4 separate regions of the Homo sapiens genome follow, and all the other regions are linked to region 4. The links come from fine-mapping of genetic effects on gene expression. A gene starts in region 4. Each other region holds a variant in brackets. All regions are shown on one strand. Distances are between the middles of the regions. Region 1 has its middle 52 kb from the start of DOCK9-DT. Region 2 overlaps UBAC2 (UBA domain containing 2). Region 3 overlaps UBAC2 (UBA domain containing 2). Region 4 holds the start of GPR18 (G protein-coupled receptor 18).

Region 1 (5,151 bases), 120 kb before region 4:
CACCACAGTGCTCAAGATACCTGTGTCAGCAAAGCTGCAGGAGCCAGGCACATAATGAAAGCACAAAGCCGCCTGGAATACAGTGCAAAGCCTGAAAGTGAGCCTGAAGCAGACACCGTAGAAAGGCGCCAGTTGAGTCGGAAGGGTAGATCCAAAGGCATGATCGCATCAGCATCACAGGTGAGGAGGGACATCCAGAGTCTCTGGGAGTCCGTCACAGTGAAAACTGCTCCAGCATCAGCAAGGCGAGCCTTGCATTCCCTCATTCAACCATTCACTCGTGTATTCAGCCAGACGACATTAGTGGTTGAGCCCTTCCTATATGCCAGACACTCCCTAGTGCTACAGATCAAAAGCCCCGTTGAACCCTGCCGGGCTCTGCAGGCAGCTCACAGGTACCCAAACTCCTCATAGTCATTGGGCTAGACAGCTGCCCTGAAGGTCCCCTGCAGGCCAGGGCACGCTGCTCAGAGCACTCCAGGACACAGTGGCCACCCCTTCTGCAGCCTTCCTGTCCCCATAGCCTGCCTGACTTCAGGTCTTTCCCAGACTTGACCTGCCCCTGGGGATGTGACGACCGAGGGGCTCTGCACATTGGCCCTCTGACCTGCACAGTCTCACCCTGCAGGCATGAGGCTTGGCACTGCCCCTCTCCAGCTGGATCATAGTGGTCTGCTATGGCTGGGCTGGGAATGGTCCAGGGGCCAGCCCCATATATGTCCCCTAATTTCCTAAACCCTGGAGTCCAATTACAGAGTGAGTACAGGGGATTTTGAAGGATCATGGCTTCATACGTTTGCTTTTGGCATATATTGTCCAACAAGTCCTTGACCAGCAAGAGAACCTACAGTTATAGCATTGTTTCTAAAGATAAACACCATGCCTTTTTTGGGGGATGCAGTATCCAGGAAGGTGTCATGTTAAAATGCAGGGTTTCTGTATACACACAGGAGTGAAGGAATCTGACTCAGTCTTTGGCCTTATAGTCTTGCCCTACACATACTGAAAGGATTCTTTTTTGTTTTTTATAGAGACGAGGTCTCACTATGTTGCCCAGGCTGGTCTTGAACTCCTGTGGGCTCAAGTGATCCTCCCACCTCGACCTCCCAAAGTGCTAAGATTACAGGTAAGAGCCACCACACCTGGCCAGAAAGGACCCTTGAAAGCAGCATTCTTCAAATTGGGTTATCTGTCTTTGAGGGACACATGGGTAAGCTGTGGCTCAAACACATGGGCTAAGTGTAGAGGGAATCACTTCCCAGGATCTCAGCTTCCTTTCTGAGGTCAGGGTCTCCTTTCCCAGCTCTTCGCTCTCAGTCCCTTCTCCACTTACTGAAGAACGGGAGCCTCTCACCATCCTGAACCGTCCTATGGTGCATTGCAGGGGTGAAATAACTTCCGGGGCATTAAATAAAGGGATTTTTGAAATGCTAATTGGTGTTAAAAGAGGGATGATTCTATTGATGTGGTTGAAAAAAATCATTACGTCAGGTAGTTGCTTTTTCTTTGCATACAACCAAATTAAAGGAAGACCAAAGTTTCAGCTGATAAATCATTACAAATTATTTTAGATGATAAATATTTGTGTGGTGGGGGACATAACTCAGAAGGGGTTCAAAGAATTGAAGGTCAAGGCTATGGCAAAATGCTTCCTTCCCCATCTACTTAATTAATGTCTGTATGTTTTCTCGGTGCTTACATTTAAAAAATAATCGGCATGTAATTGGTGCTAAACCTAGTGTTAAGTCTACCAAGAATTAATATTCTCTGGATACATGAACTGGTTGAGAAATTCCCACTCATCTCAGTAAGAGATGCATTTTCTTTCTCTTTTTTTTTTTGAGACGGAGGCTCATTCTGTCGCCCAGGCTGGAGTGCAGTGGCGCGATCTTGGTTCGCTGCAAGCTCCGCCTCCTGGGTTCACGCCATTCTCCTGCCTCAGCCTCCCGAGTAGCTGGGACTACAGGCGCCCGCCACCACGCCGGGCTAATTTTTTGTACTTTTAGTAGAGACGGGG[C/T]TTCACCGTGTTAGCCTGGATGGTCTCCATCTCCTGACCTCGTGATCCACCCGCCTCGGCCTCCCAAAGTGCTGGGATTACAGGCGTGAGCCACCGCGCCCGGCCTGGAGACCAAAGTTTTAACATGCAGGTGAAGCCTCCAGGTATCAGGCTTCAGAGACGGTAGATTATAAATATTTCTTATCAGACTTAAAGAGTCTGTTCTGTCAGTAATTCCAAAAGGGAGGAGGGAATAATGAGGCATGTCCGATTCCCTCTTCCCATCGTGGCCTGAACTCATTTTTCAGGTTAACTTTGGAATATCTTTGCCGAAATGAGGTGTCCATTCAGATGGGTGGGGGCTTAGAATTTTATTTTTGGTTTGCATTCTCCCCCTTCTGGCCAAGATTTGCCAGAGGCAACATTAATGGCCACCAAGCTTTTATTTTGTCCCATAGAGTTGCTGGGGTGGCATGGCTGCCTGACCCAAGTCCATCCTGTTCTTCTGTGTGATGCCCTCATCCATGGCCAATGGACTTAGAGCCAGGAGACTTATAGCCAATTATACGTTCTAGGCCATATAGGAAAGGACGTGGACAGGCATTCATTACCTCTTAACAATTTTAAAGTAATACAAAAGCCAACAAACAAAAAGCCAAAAGTGAGGTTACAAAATTGACTTTATCTGTCTTTAACTTCCATGCATTGAGCTACTGTAATCTTGGTTTTTGTTATGGACTCGTAGCAGTTAGCTATTCAACACATAAGCATTGTTAAAACCTTTTAGGCTAAGGAATTTAGAGACTTTGTTGTGTCACAATGCTTTTTGGGGTCTTTTAGTAATTTGTCCTAAGGTGGCTGAAATTTTTTATTTTTTATTTTTTGAGATGGAGTCTCGCTCTGTCGCCCAGGCTGGAGTGAAGTGGTGCGATCTTGGCTCCCTGCAACCTCCGCCTCCTGGGTTCAAGCGATACTCAGCCTCCGGAGTAGCTGGGACTACAGGCGCATGCCACCAGGCCCGGCTAATTTTTTGTAATTTTAGTAGAGATGGGGTTTCACCATATTGGCAGGCTGGTCCCTGGCCTCAGGTGATCCACCCACCTCGGCCTCCCAAAGTGCTGGGATTATAGGCGTGAGCCACTGAGCCCTGCTGAAAAAAAATTTTTTAAATACATATCTATCTTCATAAATCTCATAAGTAGGAGTATTATTCCCGGGAGGTTTTGTCATGAGGTATCCTTATATCCTCTCAGTAATAATTTTATTTTAATTCTATGTGAAGCAGAAAATTCTTCATGGTTGGGACGAGTGAAAAGGTGCCACACCATAAAAATCCAGGAGGTAAAGTCCCTTATTTCACCAGCTGTTTAGACATCTGTGTACCCATCCTTGATTTGGAGGGTCTGAACTAATTCTGTCCCTCAAAACCAGCCCTTACAATCTCATGCACCCACCTCTTCCATGATAGTCCCCGGGCCCAGAGGGAGGGTGCCTGTACGGTTTTAGTAGCTGGGTATTTGCAGTGAAAAACAGATCAGGCCAAGTGGGATTCCAAGTACAGGAGACGCACAGGCTTTGTCAAATCATCTCTAGTCTTCAGAAGACCATGATTCTGGTGTTCTTGCATGAAGTAAAACTATGAGAGATAAGTAATGTTAACAATTTGACAATTAAAAGAGAACGTGTGTGTCAGAACAGAAGAAGGAATCTATTCCATTAGGGTGCCAACTAAAAACATGAAGAAAATTATAACCTGGATTCTTGCAGCCAGAAATAACTCATGATTCAATCTGTACGCAAAAACAAAACCCAGGGCTGGAATCTAGTAATAGGTGTTATAGTTTTCCTTTGAAACAATTTCTCTCTCTTTCCAGCCCTCCTTTTCTACTAAAGAAAAATTATTGGAAGACCAGCATTTACTATGGCCTGAGTAATAGTCATATTCAGTGGGAGAATATCTGAAGTTTATTTAAAGGTTATATATAAATGGTGAAATGTTCACATCTTAAGTGGGCCATTTAGACAACTTCAGTCATCTGTGTAACCCAAATTCTGGGTGCAGAGGTGACACGCAGCACATTACCATCACCCAAAAAGTTCCCTGATCCCCCTTTTTTTCTTGGAGACGGAGTTTCACTCTTGTTGCCCAGGCTGGAGTGTAATGGCATGATCTTGGCTCACTGCAACCTCTGTCCCCCAGGTTCAAGAGATTCTCCTGCCTTAGCCTCCCAAGTAGCTGGGATTACAGGCAGGTGCCACCACACCTGTGTTGCAGGAAGTCAGGGACCCCGAACGGAGGGACCGGCTGAAGCCACGGCAGAAGAACATAAATTGTGAAGATTTCATGGACATTTATTAGTTCCCAAAATTAATACTTTTATAATTTCTTACACCTGTCTTTACTGCAATCTCTGAACATAAATTGTGAAGATTTCATGGACATTTGTTAGTTCCCCAAATTAATACTCTTATAATTTCTTATGCCTGTCTTACTTTAATCTCTTAACCCCGTCATCTTCATAAGCTGAGGATGTATGTCACCTCAGGACCCTGTGATGATTGCATTAACTGTACAAATTGTTTGTGAAACATGTGTGTTTGAACAATATGAAATCAGTGCACCCTGAAAAAGAACAGGATAACAGCGATTTTCAGGGAACAAGGAAAGATAACCATAAGGTCTGACTGCCTGCAGGGTCGGGCAGAATAGAGCCATATTTTTCTTCTTGCAGAAAGCTTATAGACGATGTACAAGTAGGAGAGATATCGCTGAATTCTTTTCCTAGCAGGGAATATTAATCATTGAGACCCTGGGGAAGGACTGCATTCCTGGGGGTAGGTCTATGAACGGCTGCTCTGGGAGCGTCTGTCTTATGCGATTGAGCTAAGGACTGAAATACTGGTCTCCTGCAGTGCCCTGAGGCTTACTAGATTGGGAAATTCCAGCCCGGTGAATTCTAGTCAGACCAGTTGTCCGCTCTTGAACCCTGTTTCCTGTTAAGATGTTTATCAAGACAATGCATGCACAGTGGGACACAGACCCTCATCAGTAATTCTAATTTTGCCTTCGCCTTGTGATCTTTATGGGCTTTTGAAACATGTGATCCTTGTGACCTACTTCCTGTTCGTACACCCCTCCCCTTTTAAAATCCCTA
Region 2 (5,151 bases), 90 kb after region 4:
GGTGGAATTTGGATGGGTGGAGAGGGTAAGGCACATCATTCCAGAGGAGAGGACCAGCAAGAGTGAGGCATGGAGGTGCTAATGAGACCTTAAAAAGGAGAGACCTCCAGGAGCCCTGTGATTGACATGTGGGCAGATATGTAGTGAGAAATGGGAAATGATATAGTAACTGATAATGGAGGGAGGTAGTTTAAGCCTGACAATAGATTTCGGCTTGGACATTGGCTGTGAAAAATTGTTTATTCAGTAACAAAGATAGGACAGTTATCTCAGAAAAATGTCATTTTATTGCACAGTGTAAGATGGACGGGGGAAAGGAGAAACCACAGAGGAGGAGACAAATAGAAGGAGGTTTCTAAAGCCCGGCTCTCAGAGGAGTGCCTTGGCTGGGCTGATGCTGTACTCTGGATCGAGCTCTCCTTCCTCTGTTCACTCCCTAAATAGGTTGTTTCCCAAGACTCAGTTCTCTGCCTACTGAGCTTTTCACGTTAGACACCCAAGGGGACCCACCCAGCCCCTGTCCTCACCACTTTATTGAGCTCATGGCTCCCATGAGTCCCTCAAGATCTAGAGACTGGACCTCCCTCTCTCCTGGGGCTCCAGACCGAAATATCCTACTGCCTATAGTACATCTCCACTTCACTGTCCCATCAGCTCTTGACAGGTACTGTTTCTTTTTTTCTTTCTTTTTTTTTTTTTTTTTTTGAGACAGAGTCTTGCTCTGTTGCCCAGGCTGGAGTGCAGTGGCGTGATCTTGGCTCACTGCAACCTCTGTCTCCTGGCTTCAAGCAATTCTCCTGCCTCAGCCTCCCGAGTAGCTGGGATTACAGGCGCTCACCACCACATCCGGCTAATTTTTGTATTTTTAGTAAAGACGGGGTTTCACCATGTTGGCCAGGCTGGTCTTGAACCCCTGACCTCATGATCCACTTGCCTTGGCCTCCCAAAGTGCTGGGATTACAGGCGTGAGCCACCGCACACAGCCGACATGTACTGTTTCTTTGCTAAATTTGTTTCCCTTTCTCACTCCCTACCTGATGAAAAGCACCCATTGTTTACCCGAAAGTCCAAACCTAGGGTTTCACCCCAGACATTTCCCACTTATACATCCATGTCCTTCCTGCCTTCCCCACCAGTTCAGCCCCAAAGAGTCTCCCTCCTTGATGTAAGTCCGTCATTCATCTCCAGTGCTGTAGTTCAGGCCACCGGCGCCATTTGCCTGGATTTCTTCCCTCCCATCTCCATCACCGACTGCCTCCCTCCTGAGCCTGCCCCACAGCCTCCACCAGTGATCTCTGTGAAAACAGAAATCTGCTTGTTTCACTCCAGCTATCATCCTTCAGGGCCTCTCCATAGCTTTCAGGGTGGTTCCAACACAAGGCTCCTGCCTGCTATGTGGCCGCATCTCCTTTCTGCTGCCGTGTGCAAGCCCTTAGGCCAGCCATGCCTCACCGGGTTACTCACAGTTAACTGCTGCTCATATTGTTTCACGCAGTCTCACCTTTACATCTTCCCTTTCCTCTCTGCCCAGAATGAACTTCCCTGTACCAACCCCTTCACCCCACCCCTCCCACATACACATCATTTTCACTTGTCTAGCTGCTATTTACTCGGCATTCCTGACAAATATCGCCTCCTCAGGGAGGCCTTCCCCAGCTTCCTGGGGGGCTCCCAGGGCTCTCTCTGCCCCTGTAGACACTGCCTGTCTCTCGTGGCACCGCAAACCCGATGTTCACTGGTGATTTACTGCCCTTTCTCCACCAGTGTGTCTCCGGATGGAGCAGACTTGTTTTCTGTATATCTCCAGTGTGTGAATAATGCCTGGCAGATGTTAGGAACTGTGGGAATTAATGAGCAAATATGAGCATAATAAATAGATACAGAAAGACTTTAAGCAAGCTGAACACAGATGAATAATCAGGGCTGGAAACATCTACAGAGGTTGAGTGCAGTGGTTCACGCCTGTAATCCCAGCACTTTGGGAAGCCCAGGCGGGCAGATTGCTTGAGCCCAGGAGTTTGAGACCAGCTTGGGCCACATGGTGAGACCCCCATCTCTATTTAAAGAAAAAAAAAGATCTACGGATACTCTTGAGAGAACAGTAGAAAGCAAGACCCATGTCTAGAGAGTGCAAAGAGGGAAAAAAAAGAACCCCCAGGGACCAAGGAGAAAACCAGTTCAGTGGCCAGGGAGCCTGCGGAGTAGAATGTTTCAGGAAGAGTAGGTGTTTCAGGAACAGATTCAGACGTTACTATCCCCGGGCGCCCCCCCCCCCCCCCAGGAAAAAAAAGGCAAGTGAAGATGATACTGGAAGACCACCACTGGATTCAGCAGAATGAGTTCACTTTTGAAAGGGGCTTCGGTGGAGAGATGGGGATGAGAAGCGCTGCATGAGCTGGAAGTGGGGGAAGGTCAATATCACTCTGTTCTGACTGGCTGCCCTCATTCTGGGACATCACTGTGGTCACGCTGGTCCCCGTTCAAGTTACTTTCACTCTGTGAGAAAGTCAATATGATCTTATGCTCCTGAAGCATTTTTAGTCCACTGTGTGGCATATTCCCATTCCACAGCTCTGATGAACAGTGACCAGGGTGATGGCTCTATAGATCTCACTTCAACTGAGACATGAGACCTAGGTGCTGACAGGGGCAGGGTACAGTGGTCCCATGCTCATCATTAAGCACAGGCATGTGATAACGTCATCTAGTGTGCTTTGACCTCCTACAGATCTTTCTGGACATTTCCCGCCAGCACTGACTATCCAGAGGCCTTTGGAGGCTTGTCTCATGGGCCTGTGGCAGTGAAGATGGAGTGGGCTGCAGA[G/A]TATTAGCTGCAGCCTGTGGTGCCCACTTCTTATCTCCCTCCACATCCACAGCTGTCCCATTCTTTTGTAAACTCGGGACACTATGCTGGACACACATAAGCTGCTCTCAGTAGTTCCTTGCCCGCTGACTCACTCTTGTCTCCCAGCAGAGCTGCCTTCTCCAAAGCAGGTGGCATCTCAGAGTCATTTTGCTACTTGCAGCTGTGATCATCTTTACACTGCCAGGGCCATTACATAACTTTTCATGGGTTTGTGTTTTGTTCATCCCCAGTAGAATATGAGCTCTTGGAGGACAGGAGCTGTTGTACTTCTTTGTCTTTTGGCTCTAATGCAGTGTACTGCCCTGAGGGATTAAATAAGACGCCGCCTGCGCCTTCAAGAAGTTTGCAGCCAGCGAGGGGAAGACATGAGGCTGTACTAGGCACTAGGTTTCTACAGGAGTCTGTGCAAAGAGAAGAAAAAAGAACCCTGAGCCTAAACAGTGGGTGTGGCCAGTTCTCCCTAAGGGATACAGCGAGGGTAATCTTGAGGCCAGCATTGGGGCAGGTGTTTCAGTCACGGGGGGCCTTATGAAAAAACGCACAGGGGCTCAAAACAGCTGTGGGGACAGCAAGGAATTGCATTCGCCTGAGATTGAGGTTCCTATAAGAAAGAGGCAATGAAAGACATGGTTGGGAAGAGAGCAGAGGCCAGGACGGGTCTTCTACCAAACTAAGAATTGCTGTTGTGTTCATCCTGCCAGAAGTGGTGGATCAGTGAGGCCTTTTAAACAGGAGAGTAAGTTAGATTTATTTTTAAGAAAGCTCACTTTAGTCATAATATGAACGTTGTCTGAAGGGATGACGGTAGGCTGGCCACAGTGGCTCATGCCTGTAATCCCAGCGCTTTGGGAGGCCAAGGCAGGAGGATAGCATGAGCCTAGGAGTTTGAGACCAGCCTGGGCAACATAGTGAGACCTCTTCTCTACAAAAAAATTTTTTAAATCAGCTGGGCGTGGTGGCCTGTGCCTGTAGTCCCAGCTACTCAGGAGGCTGAGATGGAACGATCACTTGATCCCTGGAGGTCAAGGTGCAATCACGGCTCAAAAAGAAAAAGAAAAGAAAAGGTGACACTAGAGGAAGAAGACCAGGTGGGAGACAGTGAAAATTCTGTGTGCTCAGGATATTGTTGGTGATGAGCTAGAGCATGCTTAGCTCATCACAGTGAAGGACGAGGGCAGGCTTTGCAGAGCCTCCTTGTCTTCAGACCTCCAGATCAATTACTGGAGTCTCCTGTAGTAATGATCATCCGAATGGTGCCTGTGCAACCTGAGTCTCCACAGCTTCACGGTGCATGTCTCCCTCCCTTTGCTCGCTGTAGCAAAGAAGCTCTGTGTGCTGTGATGAGAAAGATGTATCTGTTCTCTACCACTGGCCCCTGACACACAGCACCTAAAGCCCTTGGAATCTCCACAGTGAGCATAGGGTCCAGCCCTACAGGGCTTAGCAGGTGTTCTCCCCATGTGCGGAGATGAGATTGTAATAAATAAAGACACAAGACAAAGAGATAAAGAGAAAACAGCTGGGCCCGAGGGACCACTGCCATCAAGATGCGGAGACCAGTAGTGGCCCTGAACGGCTGGGTGCGCTGATATTTATTGCATACAAGACCGGGGGTCAGGGTAAGGAGGGTGAATCTTCTAAGTGATTGACAAGGTGAAGCAAGTCACGTAATCACAGGACAGGGGGGCCCTTCCCTCTTAGGTAGCCGAAGCTGAGAGAGAGAAGGCACCATACGTCAGCGTTTTCTTCTATGCACTTATAAGAAAGATCAAAGACTTTAAGACTTTTACTATTTCTTCTACTGCTATCTACTACGAACTTCAAAGAGGAACCAGGAGTACGGGAGGAACATGAAAGTGGACAAGGAGCGTGACCGTTGAAGCACAGCATCACAGGGAGGGGTTTAGGACTTCGGATGACTGCGGGCAGACTGGGATAATATCCAGCCTCCCACAAGAAGGTGGTGGAGCAGAGTGTTCCCTGACTCCTCCAATGAAAGGAGACTCCCTTTCGCGGTCTGCTAAGTAATGGGTGTCTTCGCAGACACTGGCATTACCGCTTGACCAAGGAGCCCTCATGCCGGCGTGACAGAGGGCTCACCTCTTGCCTTCTAGGTCACTTCTCACAATGTCCCTTCAGCACCTGACCCTATGCCCGCCGGTTATTCCTAGGTTATATTAGTAATGCAACAAAGAGTAATATTAAAAGCTAATGATTCATGATGTTTATAATGATTGATAATGTCCATGATCATCTCTATATCTAATTTGTATTATGACTACTCT
Region 3 (5,151 bases), 79 kb after region 4:
TAACCTCTAGGGCAAATATGAGGGGGAAAATACAGTGATATATAGCTGAAAAAAACCAAAATACTAAATAATATTTGATAGCACAAAAGAACGTAGGAAAGGGGGAGTAAAGAGTAAGAAACAGATGAGACAGACAGAAACCAAATTGCAAAATCCAGCTATTCAAGCAAATACATTAAGTATGAATAATAGCTAAACACTCCAATCAAAAGGTAGAGATTGTCAGACTAATTTAAAAGAAAAAAAATTGCTATATGGTATCTACAAGACACACTTTAAATACAAAGACACAAAAAAAGCCTGAAATTAAAAGGATGAAGATATATTATGGAGACAGTAACCATAAGAAAGCTGAAATGGCTGTTTTAAGATTAGACAAAGTAGACTTCTCTATGAGTATTACTAAAAACACAGCAGAATGCTTTGTTATGACGAAAGGGTCAGTTGTGTTTGTGTGCCTAATAACAGCGTCCACAAACAGGAACAGCTTCTAGATATATGAAGTTAAAATAGCTAATGGGAGCAATGAACAAATCAACAATCACAGTTGAATACTTTGAGACCGAAAAATAAAAATGTTTAATTTTGTACTTCATTCAAATCTCACAGCTCTAATTTGTACTACATTTTTAATATTTTGTTATGTTTATAACATTTTGCTATCTTCTGCTGAATCAGCGTAATGCTGATATACACCCTATTTTCTGTTTTATATCAGATCTTCAGAAAAGGCATTTCTACTTCCTTGCCTCCAATTCATTACTGTTTTTTTTTTTCCATATTGACTTCATATGTCTCTCTTCATTAAAAATATATATTTGTTACAGAGAATGCCTCTGCCTACCCCCTACCCTGTCCCCCATCACCCCTCTACAGCAAAGACTGCTTTCTGTGATTCTGTAGTTACCGCAGACAGATGTGTGCACAAACGGCATAGACTATTATTTTGTTGTCTGAAATTTTGCAGGAAGATGAGCGCAACATGTGATACCTTCTATGTGTATTTTTCATTCCACTTTAAACACATCAGTACACGCACATGGAGTTCATCTGGATGGCTGTATAGTACTGTGTTGTATGAATAACCCACTCTGCAGCTGTTCCCCTCTTGGGGATGATTTGTTTCTGCTTCCTCTCTCTCTCATGCAGGGCTGCAGTGGAATGAGCCTCAAAGCTCTACTTGGTGTTGCCACATTGCTCCCCAGAGGCGCCATAGCTTCACCTTCCCTCGGGACTGTGTGAGAGTTCTCAGTTCCCTCCATCCTTACCAAAACCTCACACCTGGAATCCCAGCACTTAGGGAGGCAGAGGCAGGAGGATCGCTTGAGCCCAGGAGTTCAAGACCTGCCTGGCAACATGGCAACACCTCATTCTCCACAAAATGGAAAAAAAAAAAAAAGAGATAAAACTGGATGTTAGAGGAGCTTTACATTTTTGCCAGTTGCTGTATTTAAGATTGCTCATTTTAGATTTCAGAGTCCTAAAAACAAGTGAGGATAAACATCTTTTCATGAGTTTGTCAGCCATTTGAGTTTTCTCTTCTGAAATTACCTTTTCATATGCTTTTAAAACTGGGCTCTTTCTTACACATTCCTAGGGTTTCTTGATATGTTCTGAATGCTGCCTTGGTTGGCTGTATGAATTCTGAATACTTTCTTCAGGCCTCTTGTGTTTTCATTTCATTTATGGTAGCTTTTGGCATACTACAGCTTTTAAATTGTAAAGTAGACCAGTGTGTGTTTTCTTTTCTAGTTTGTACCTTATGTTTCTTAATTTAAAATATTTTGCCACCCCAGTGCCAAAAAGGTATTCCTTCTGTATTTTGTGCAGAAAGATTTACAATTTCATGAATTCTATTTGAGTTCTTATTCCATTGCAAGTTTACGTTTGGTGTCAGGAAGGGGCCCTGTTCTGTCTCTTCCTTGTGTATAGCCCATGTGCCCCTTCCCTCCCAATTTACCCATGTCTGCTGAATACCAGGTGCCCTTACACTGAGGATCCTATTTCTAGGCTCTTGTTCTCTTGGTCTATTTAAGTAACCCTAGATAAAGACCACACTGTTTTAGGTAGCCAAACTTTATAGTATGTCTTGAAATCTGATAGGACTTA[C/G]GTTTCTTTAAAATTGCCTTGCCTTTTCTGGGTTTTTTATTTCTTTGTCTTTTAACTCTTAATTGTGATATACAACACAAACTAACTGTCACAAAGCCTTGCAAATCACTATAAAGCAAATATACCCATAATCCACCATGCAGGTACAGACCATGCCTGGCCAGCCCCGCAGCCCATGGTGCCCCCCTTCCTTCCCACCTCTCTTCCTCCTTCCCACCTCCCTCCTGTGACCCCTTCCCCTTCTTTCTCCCTCCCTTCTGTGACCCCTCCTAGCACACATAGTCATCATCTTTGCGCTTTCCTGTCTCGTTTTACTGCTTAGTGTGTGGTTTAGGTTCATTCATTCACAGAAGTGGAATCGTGTTTTCAGGCTTTGGGTCTGGCTTCTTTCTCCCAACATGGTGTTTTTAAAATGCAAACCTTAAATATTCCGCATGAATTTGAGGCTTGGCATTTACATTCCAACAAAACACCCTGTTAAGATTTTATTTTGAATGATATTTAATTTATGTATTAATTTGATGAAAATTGGTATCTTAAAAGTTTTGCATCTTCCTATTCATGGAACTGGTATCTTTATTATCACTAGGGTTGGTTTTGAAAAAATATCCCTTATTATCTTTTTCTTTTTTTTCTGTCAAGGCCTTATATATATATTATTTATTTATTCCCAATTATCTTACAGTTTTTCTTGCTGTTATTTGCTAACAGTTTATTTTTTCTTTCTAAACAGTCTGTATTTTATCCCTGGTTGCTTTTAAGGATTTCTTTCTTTTGTTTCACCACAGTGGATCTAGATGTAAATTTCGTTTTAGCATTCTTTTAGGGACTCTTGCCCTTTCATCCTAAGGATTTATATTCTTTCTTTATTCTAGAAAACTCTCAGCTGTTTATCTCTTTAAATATAATATCCTTTCCCCCATATTCCCTCTGTTGTCTTCTTCTGGAACCCCTATGCTGACAGCCGCATGAGATGCACATAATCTGCCTGTGCAGAGGCCTTGGCCTTCCCAACCCACATGGACCCTCCTTGGTTCATGCCCTACACAGCTTTTCCCTTCTCTCTGTGGAGGGGAGAAAGGGTACATGGAGCATGAGGAGGAACTGGGGTGCCTCTTACCCAGACTTAAGTAACCCTCTACTTCTCTCCTCCTTCCACAGGGCCTAGACCCTCTAGTCCAGGGGTATCTAGTCTTTTGAACTCTTCTGTGACACATTGGAAGAAGAATTGTCTTGGGCCACACATAATATACACTAACACTGAAGATAGCTGATGAGCTTTAAAAAAATTGCAAAAAAATCTCCTAACTTTTTTTCTTTTTTTCTTTTTTTTTTTTTTTTTTTTTTTTTTTTGAGACAGAGTCTCACTGTGTCGCCCAGGCTGGAGTGCAGCGGCACAATCTCGACTTACTGTAACCTCCACCACCCAGGTTCAAGCGATTCTTGTGCTTCAGCCTCCTGAGTAGCTGGGACCACAGGTGTGTGCCACCACGCCCGGCTAATTTTTGTATTTTTAGTAGAGACGGGTTTTTACCATGTTGGCCAGGCTGGTCTCAAACTCCTGACCTCTTGTGATCCGCCCGCCTTGGCCTCCCAAAGTGCAGGGATGACAGGTGTGAGCCACTGCGCCCAACCTTGTAATGTTTTAAGAAAGTTTATGAATTTGTGTTGGACCACATTGAAAGCTGTCCTGGGCCACATGTGGCCCACAGGCCTCAGGTTGAACAAGCTTGCTCTAGTCCCTGTGCTTTTCTGAGTCCCACAGGACTCTCTGCAGGCATTTGGACTTATATGCTGCTTATATGCAGAGTGGTTTATAATCACTTGATAAGCTTTCTATTTTGTTAGCATGGTTCAGGATTAGTTTCTGGTTTCATGGACCTTGGAGTTTGTTTCTGTTTTCATTTTCTTTGTCTTGTACTATTTTTGAGTAAAGGGGCACAGAAATTATTTGAAACCAGAAGTTGTCCACCATTCACTCTTCAGCCTACTACAGTCTGTCTTTGGTACCAAAACTGTTCTTGTAAACACCTTGTTTATCAAACACCTCCATTTGCAACATCCAGTGGCTAGTTCTGTCTTACTTATCAGCTGCATTAGATATAGCTGACCATCCCTATTTTAAAACACTTCTTAGCTTCAGTGATAACTAAACTCTATTTCCCTTCTCTTCACTGGCAGCCCTGTCTCAGATTTCCTTACTGGCGTTTCCTACTCTGTCTGTCCATAGAATATTTGTGCACTCCTGGATTCAGTCCTTAGTCCTGTTCTCTCTTCTGCTGTGTCTCCTCCTCCCCCCCATTTTATCTCCTCTAGTCCTGTTACCCTAAATGTCATATCATATCCAGTGACTCTGAAATCCTTATCTCGACCTTTTCCTTGAGTTCTAGAATTACATAGCCACCTGCCCACTCAGTAGCCCCCCAAGATATCTAATAGACACTCCCAAGCTCGGGCTGCGCAGCATCTGCTGCTTTCTCTGCCCAAAATGTTATTTCCCCAGTTCATCAAGTCACGGGCACCGCATCATCCTTAAGATCTTCGCTCAAGTATCACTTTCTCTGAGGGCTCTCCTGATGTCCCCCGCTGCCCCCAGAGTAGGTTCGTGCCCCATGTCACTTTATTTCCTTCCCAGAACTTGCCAGAAATAGTTTTATGTGTTGACTTGATTACTGCCTGTTCTCCACATTGACTGCTATAAGCCCTGTGAGAGTGGGGCCTTGCTTATCTTGTTCTTTGCTGTATTCTAAGTTCCCAGAACAGTGCCTGGTGTGTAGCACAGTCTCAAAGAATTCTTGCCAATTCATCAATTTAAATTTTATTTTTAAACATTGAAGTATACTTTTCTCATATTAGAAAGTTGTCAAATATGTTCTAATCTGATCTTCTAATCCTAAGAATCAAATTCACATCAAGATTTTTTTTTTTTTACAAAGGAATAGCCATAGTCATTTTTAACTAGAAAATCATAGGAAGCCTTGAGACTTCTGTAACCATACATTATAAATGACCTTCAAGATGAAGACAAGGTTGGTTTATAAA
Region 4 (5,151 bases):
GGAATCAAGAAAAAAAATGTCAGTCGAGTGAGGTTCAGCACGTTCACAGCTTTTAGATAGATGATGTCAGAAATCTTGAGGCAGGTGGCGGGAGTGGAGTCTTTATCTGGGTCTTTATAGAGCAGTAGCAGAGGGGTGGTCGTGGTCAGGGTCATTATCCAGACTCCCACACACGCCAGCACGGCTTTGCACGTGTTTTTAAGTTCTTTGGCGTACTTCGGCTGTACAATGGCCATGTATCTGTCAGCACTAATAAAGGCAAGAAGCCATAAAGCAATGCTTGGGTAAAACACTGTGAGAGCTCCAAGAATCTGGCAGAAGTACTCTCCAAATGGCCATTCATCTTTTGCATAATAAAACATTCGAAAGGGTAAAGTCATTATAAATATCAAGTCCACTAATGCCACATTCATCATATAGATGGTTACCGTGGTTCTCTTCTTGGTGGTACAACTGAAAACCCATAATGCAGTGATGTTAACAAATAATCCAATTATGAAGATACAGCTATAGAAGACAAGGGCTGCAATTTTGTATTCATCTGGATGTGAGCTGTTAAAAGGGACAGGTTGATCTTGATTGTTCAGGGTGATCATTTTACAGCTTGTTGGTAGGCATGATACTTAGAAACTGTAAAAATAGTTAAGAAAAATAAGAATAAAATCGTTGGTTAAAAAATAAATGCTTAACATTCTCCCACTCAGCTTGACTGCCAGTGAATTTTAAGTTCGAGAGCATTTAATCAAGGAACGATTCAACTGGTTAACTACTGAACATTCACAGTAATTCTCATTTGAGAGAGAATGGGAACTTTTCCTTTGTTACAGCTATAGCCCCACTGTCTATTGAGCATGTAATAGGTACTCAATAAATAAATATTTACTGAATTGATGAATAAATGAAGGAACTTTTGATGAGATGATTCACAGCAACTCTACTTTGCTAAAAAACTCTAGTTTGTAATTCTCTAGTTTGAAAATGAAGACTTGTGTAGCTGGCTATTAAACTTTTTGTTTTTTTTAAAGTGGAAACACTTCATAATATTTATTACCTTATGTTCTCTTTAAATTATCATAGGTTGAGAAACAGCAATGTTTTGTGTCATGGTCAGCAGATCAAGAACTAGACTGTTAGAGCAATAGATGAGCTGTTTTCTAGTGCACAATTGGGAGTACGTAAAGCCAAGTCTTCCAGGTTTTGTGATTTCAGCTGCTCTACTTCAGTGGTTCACAGAAAGCAGCACCTTGAAAAAAGCTAGTGCCGTTAGTAACTTTCATATCCTCATTCCATCTAGATTCAGAAGCTTCAATATTATTTAAATTTTAACAATTTTCAAAGTAAATCCAAAAAAGGAGTATCTAAGACAAGTAGATATTAATAAGAAGTCATTCAGTAACTTGATGTGTATGTAGAAACTTATAAATTTCCATCACCAAAAAAAAAAAAACCGTCCATTTTAAATGGAAAGGAGGTTATTTGGGGTTGCAAATATCATTGACTCCTCAGTGTGAAACTTCATTCCCCCATGATGCAACACCAACAACAGACTTCAAAAATAGACTTTGCTGCAATGAGATGGAATCTGTGGCATCCCCTTGTAATATGGAGGTGGATGAAAAGTTTCCTTCAAAAATGTCACTTTGCAGAGTGGGCTGTCTTGAAATCAGCCCAGAATTTCTCTTTAAGGAAAACTATGGGGGAGATTTGCTGTCTGTGGTCAGTGGCATCACGGGCTATTGATAATTAAGAATTAACTTGAGCAATTGCTGTGGTTAAACACAAGAAACGTGCCTGTCTGCCTTCCTTCCTTTCCCTTCCCTTCCCTTCCCTTTCTTCCCTTCTTCTCCTTCTTTCCTTCTCAAATATTTAGGTTAAATATGATTTAGGAGCATAATTCTATATATTTAAAAACATATTAAATTTTCCAAATATTGGTGTGACTAGAATATTAATTTCTATCAAATGAGGAAAGTGCTACAGAGAAAAATTATATCTCTAGTGTCATTCAAAGGAGAGTAATCTTGGAGGCTTAAATCTTATTTTTAACTGGAATGCATTCTTATTAAATAGTAGCAATTATAATATAAATGAAATTTTGTATTTGTTTTTCTTTTTTTAGTATTGCATCAGGACTCCCTTCACCTATCCTCATCCTTCAATTTTGTGACATAAGTCCTGTACTTACAAACCATCTTGAGTCTTTTTTCCCACGTTATGCTCAAGCTGTTTTTATGTAGCTTGTCACCAATACTTATATTCATTTGCTGACGTTTGAAAAAAAATGAGTGATGCATGTGTTTTAAAGGCATTATAGTATTGATTGTGCTCTGCAAACACAGAAATTTTTGGATAAATATTGAAAAGTGATTGACTTTAAAGTCAGCTTTTTAAAAGCTATAGATACCATGATTATCTGTAGCTTTTCTTTTCTTAAAAACCATTAAGTTATTTCATGAAACAATGTAATTGAAAACATGTGATGAACATTCCTAAATATACATATGATTTACCATAAACATTTTCTTTCCTTAAGTTGAAAAAAATTACATTTAGTATTAATGTAAAGCAATATTGAAAATAAATGTAAAATCATATTAATGTGGAAAGATGATTATATAGCCTATTTCAAGGTCTTTCACCAACATAGTTTGTTATGTTTATTTTTTTAATTAAATATATTTTTTTAATAGAGACGGGGTCTCACTATGGTGCTCCTGGGCACAACTGATCCTCCTGCCTTGGCCTCCCAAAGTGTTGGAGTTACAGGCGTGGGCCATTGCGCCCAGCCTGTATTATTAAAATGAAATGATTTTTGAAATGCAGTACATAAAGCATTACTTTTGACAATAATCATGAAGTTAATTAAATGCTGCTTACCTCCTGTCCATCAAAAGTCTGTGTGAGAGATGAGCATTTTTCAGCACTTCCACTTCTGTCGAAGGGATATCTTTGAGTTGCTTCTGTTAAAATAGCTCTTTCTGGAAACAGTGTATTTAAGAAATGTTGTATTTTGTTTTAGACTCTTTTGTTGCTTTAAAAAGTAGTTTCCAGTGTAACGCTTGGCGTCGGAGTTGGTGCTGGGCTGACTTTAATTGCTGCTTTGTCTCTTTCAGGAAGTGCTCTCTGAAATAGGCTTTTTCACCTTATGACTTTACCCTGGATGTGGTTTTTCTCTTTCACAAATGATTTGTTTATGAAGTCACACTTAGCATAAGCTCCCCTTGAAATGATGGCATATATTTAAGATAATTATATACAAAGGATAAAGTTTCTTCAGTTTGTGTACTTTGATGCTTGAAGTCTGCATCATCTATGGAAAGAGAAGATTTGATATTGAGTAAAAGGGGGTTTAAAGTCTAGCTTCTTTGCTTTATAAGCTATGTGACTTTGTCTAGTTACCTACCCACTCTGACTAACCCTTTGTTCCTACTTCATTTCTGTACAGTTGAAATAGAGATAATACTATATCCAGTAGGATTGTAGGGGCCCTAAACCAGAAAGATCCCAAGTGCTTAATAGTACCTGGCACTTAGTAGGTACTCCTAAATGGAGTCTCACTTTTTACTACCAAGTTATTAAAAATCATAGAATATCCACATTTCCACTTTTTACTATTTAAACATTTCTAAATGCTTAAAAGTAGGATCCTTGATTAATTGCTTCTGCTTTGCCACATACATTTATCCACTTTAGTTTGCTGTATTTTGTAAGTCTGCTTTTCTAGTGCGTGGAAGTCTAGAAATAATTTCTTTTGCATAAAAATTTCTGCAAATCTTAGCAGAAAGGACTCTGAAGTCTTTAGTGGACTGATTTACATATTAAGAGTGTTTTCACCTAAGAAGGGAAATGAAACCAGCAGAAAGGGAAGTGAGCAACGAATCGCTGCCTGCCTTGTTAGGTTAATTTTGTTTTACTTTCTCATTTCTTAAAAAAAATTATCTCTCATTTGCTTATCCTAAAATTTTAATTATCTTTATGTTTGGTTATGCATGGTTTGTCAACTTTTTAAAGGGTTCATGAACTTAAATGTATTTGTTTTTTTGAATTTTAGACAGTTTGGGGTCCATCCTTTTTTTTTTTTTTCTCAGACAAAACCATAGTAAATCTGTGGCTTAGAAAAGTTACTTAAATCCTTGCCTTTGGTGATAAAATACTTTTGATTGTTACAACCTGCCAGAATGATGGGTTTTAGAAGTGTTGGAGACAACCATAGCAACTATTTCTTGTGTGGATGAAGAAATTGAAGGCCAGTTACTTGCTTAAGAACTCAAGGTAAAGCCAGGTCCAGTTTCTCCCGCTGTAATAACTTCTTATGAGGTAATTATATTGATCTGTCCACTAGATAGGACTTCTTATGGCTGAATCACATTCATCAGTTTTTTATATGTGATGTTATATTTCATTCATCACACAGGAGTTTGATGTTTCAGCTGGACAGAAATCTGCCTGCATGCAGACCTAATCTGTCCTTTGCCTTATTCACATAGCTTAGGACTTTTCTAAAATTAAGTATTGATTAGCTTCCCCATTGCTGCTAAAATCAACAGATACATTGATGGCATGTGTCTAGAAGAGTCCTTTCATCAAGACTTGAATTCTTCACGGTGCACAGGGGCATTCTTGTTTCTGAATTGCCAGACTCTTAGAGGAGGCATCCAGGAGCACCTGAGGGCTCTCCATAGGCCTGGCTTCAGGTTGGGGTGAGCTCTCACTTTTTCCTCATCTTGCTCTCCATTCCAGCCCTCTGGACTGGCTACATTTGCTCTTCCTGCCTCTCACATGCTGTTCCACCCACTGTGGCATTCCTCACCACTGTCTCCCACCTGATGGCATGGCCTGCTGCTCTTTGTTCTTGTAGCTACCTTTTTCAGGAAGCTTTCTCTGCCATCCGAAGCTGGGCTGGTTTCTCTGCCCTCCGAAGCTGGGCTGGTTGTTCATCCCTGCAGGTTTCCTTAGCACTTGGTACCTATCCCTGTAGTGGCACATGTTTGCATTGTTACTGCATATTTACTTGCTTTTTCTCCTCCACTAAATTGCATTCCTTGAGAGTTGGCATGTGTTGCATATGTGTGTAGAGAAGAGGCATTTAATATTGGTTGAATTTCTGACTGAACAAGTAGGTGAAGAAATGGAGAGGTTGGGGGAGGAATG

What was found. PIP is the estimated chance that this variant, and not a neighbour inherited with it, causes the effect. A credible set is the group of variants that fine-mapping cannot tell apart.
Region 1: its variant is the best candidate, but not a certain one, in a credible set for the expression of GPR18 in blood mononuclear cells (TOPMed, PIP 0.60).
Region 2: its variant is the best candidate, but not a certain one, in a credible set for the expression of GPR18 in whole blood (INTERVAL, PIP 0.55).
Region 3: its variant is the best candidate, but not a certain one, in a credible set for the expression of GPR18 in whole blood (INTERVAL, PIP 0.66).

Annotation. Positions count from the first base shown.
Region 1 is chr13:99,136,150-99,141,300 of GRCh38, forward strand. No RefSeq gene overlaps it. Among named protein-coding and RNA genes, the nearest start is that of DOCK9-DT, 52 kb to the left of the region's middle. The variant C/T (reference allele first, on the strand shown) is at 2,018.
Region 2 is chr13:99,345,056-99,350,206 of GRCh38, forward strand. The region is part of intron 7 of UBAC2 (UBA domain containing 2); the gene reads left to right. Among named protein-coding and RNA genes, the nearest start is that of FKSG29, 3.8 kb to the right of the region's middle. The variant G/A (reference allele first, on the strand shown) is at 2,825.
Region 3 is chr13:99,334,614-99,339,764 of GRCh38, forward strand. All of the region lies in intron 6 of UBAC2 (UBA domain containing 2), which reads left to right. Among named protein-coding and RNA genes, the nearest start is that of FKSG29, 14 kb to the right of the region's middle. The variant C/G (reference allele first, on the strand shown) is at 2,110.
Region 4 is chr13:99,255,277-99,260,427 of GRCh38, forward strand. It overlaps GPR18 (G protein-coupled receptor 18), which reads right to left and starts at 3,103. Exons shown (of 2, transcript NM_001098200.2): 1 at 2,878-3,103; 2 at 1-630. The coding sequence starts at 596. The region is part of intron 4 of UBAC2 (UBA domain containing 2); the gene reads left to right. It overlaps LOC124903198 (a long non-coding RNA gene), which reads right to left. Exons shown (of 3, transcript XR_007063846.1): 2 at 4,863-4,972; 3 at 3,163-3,310.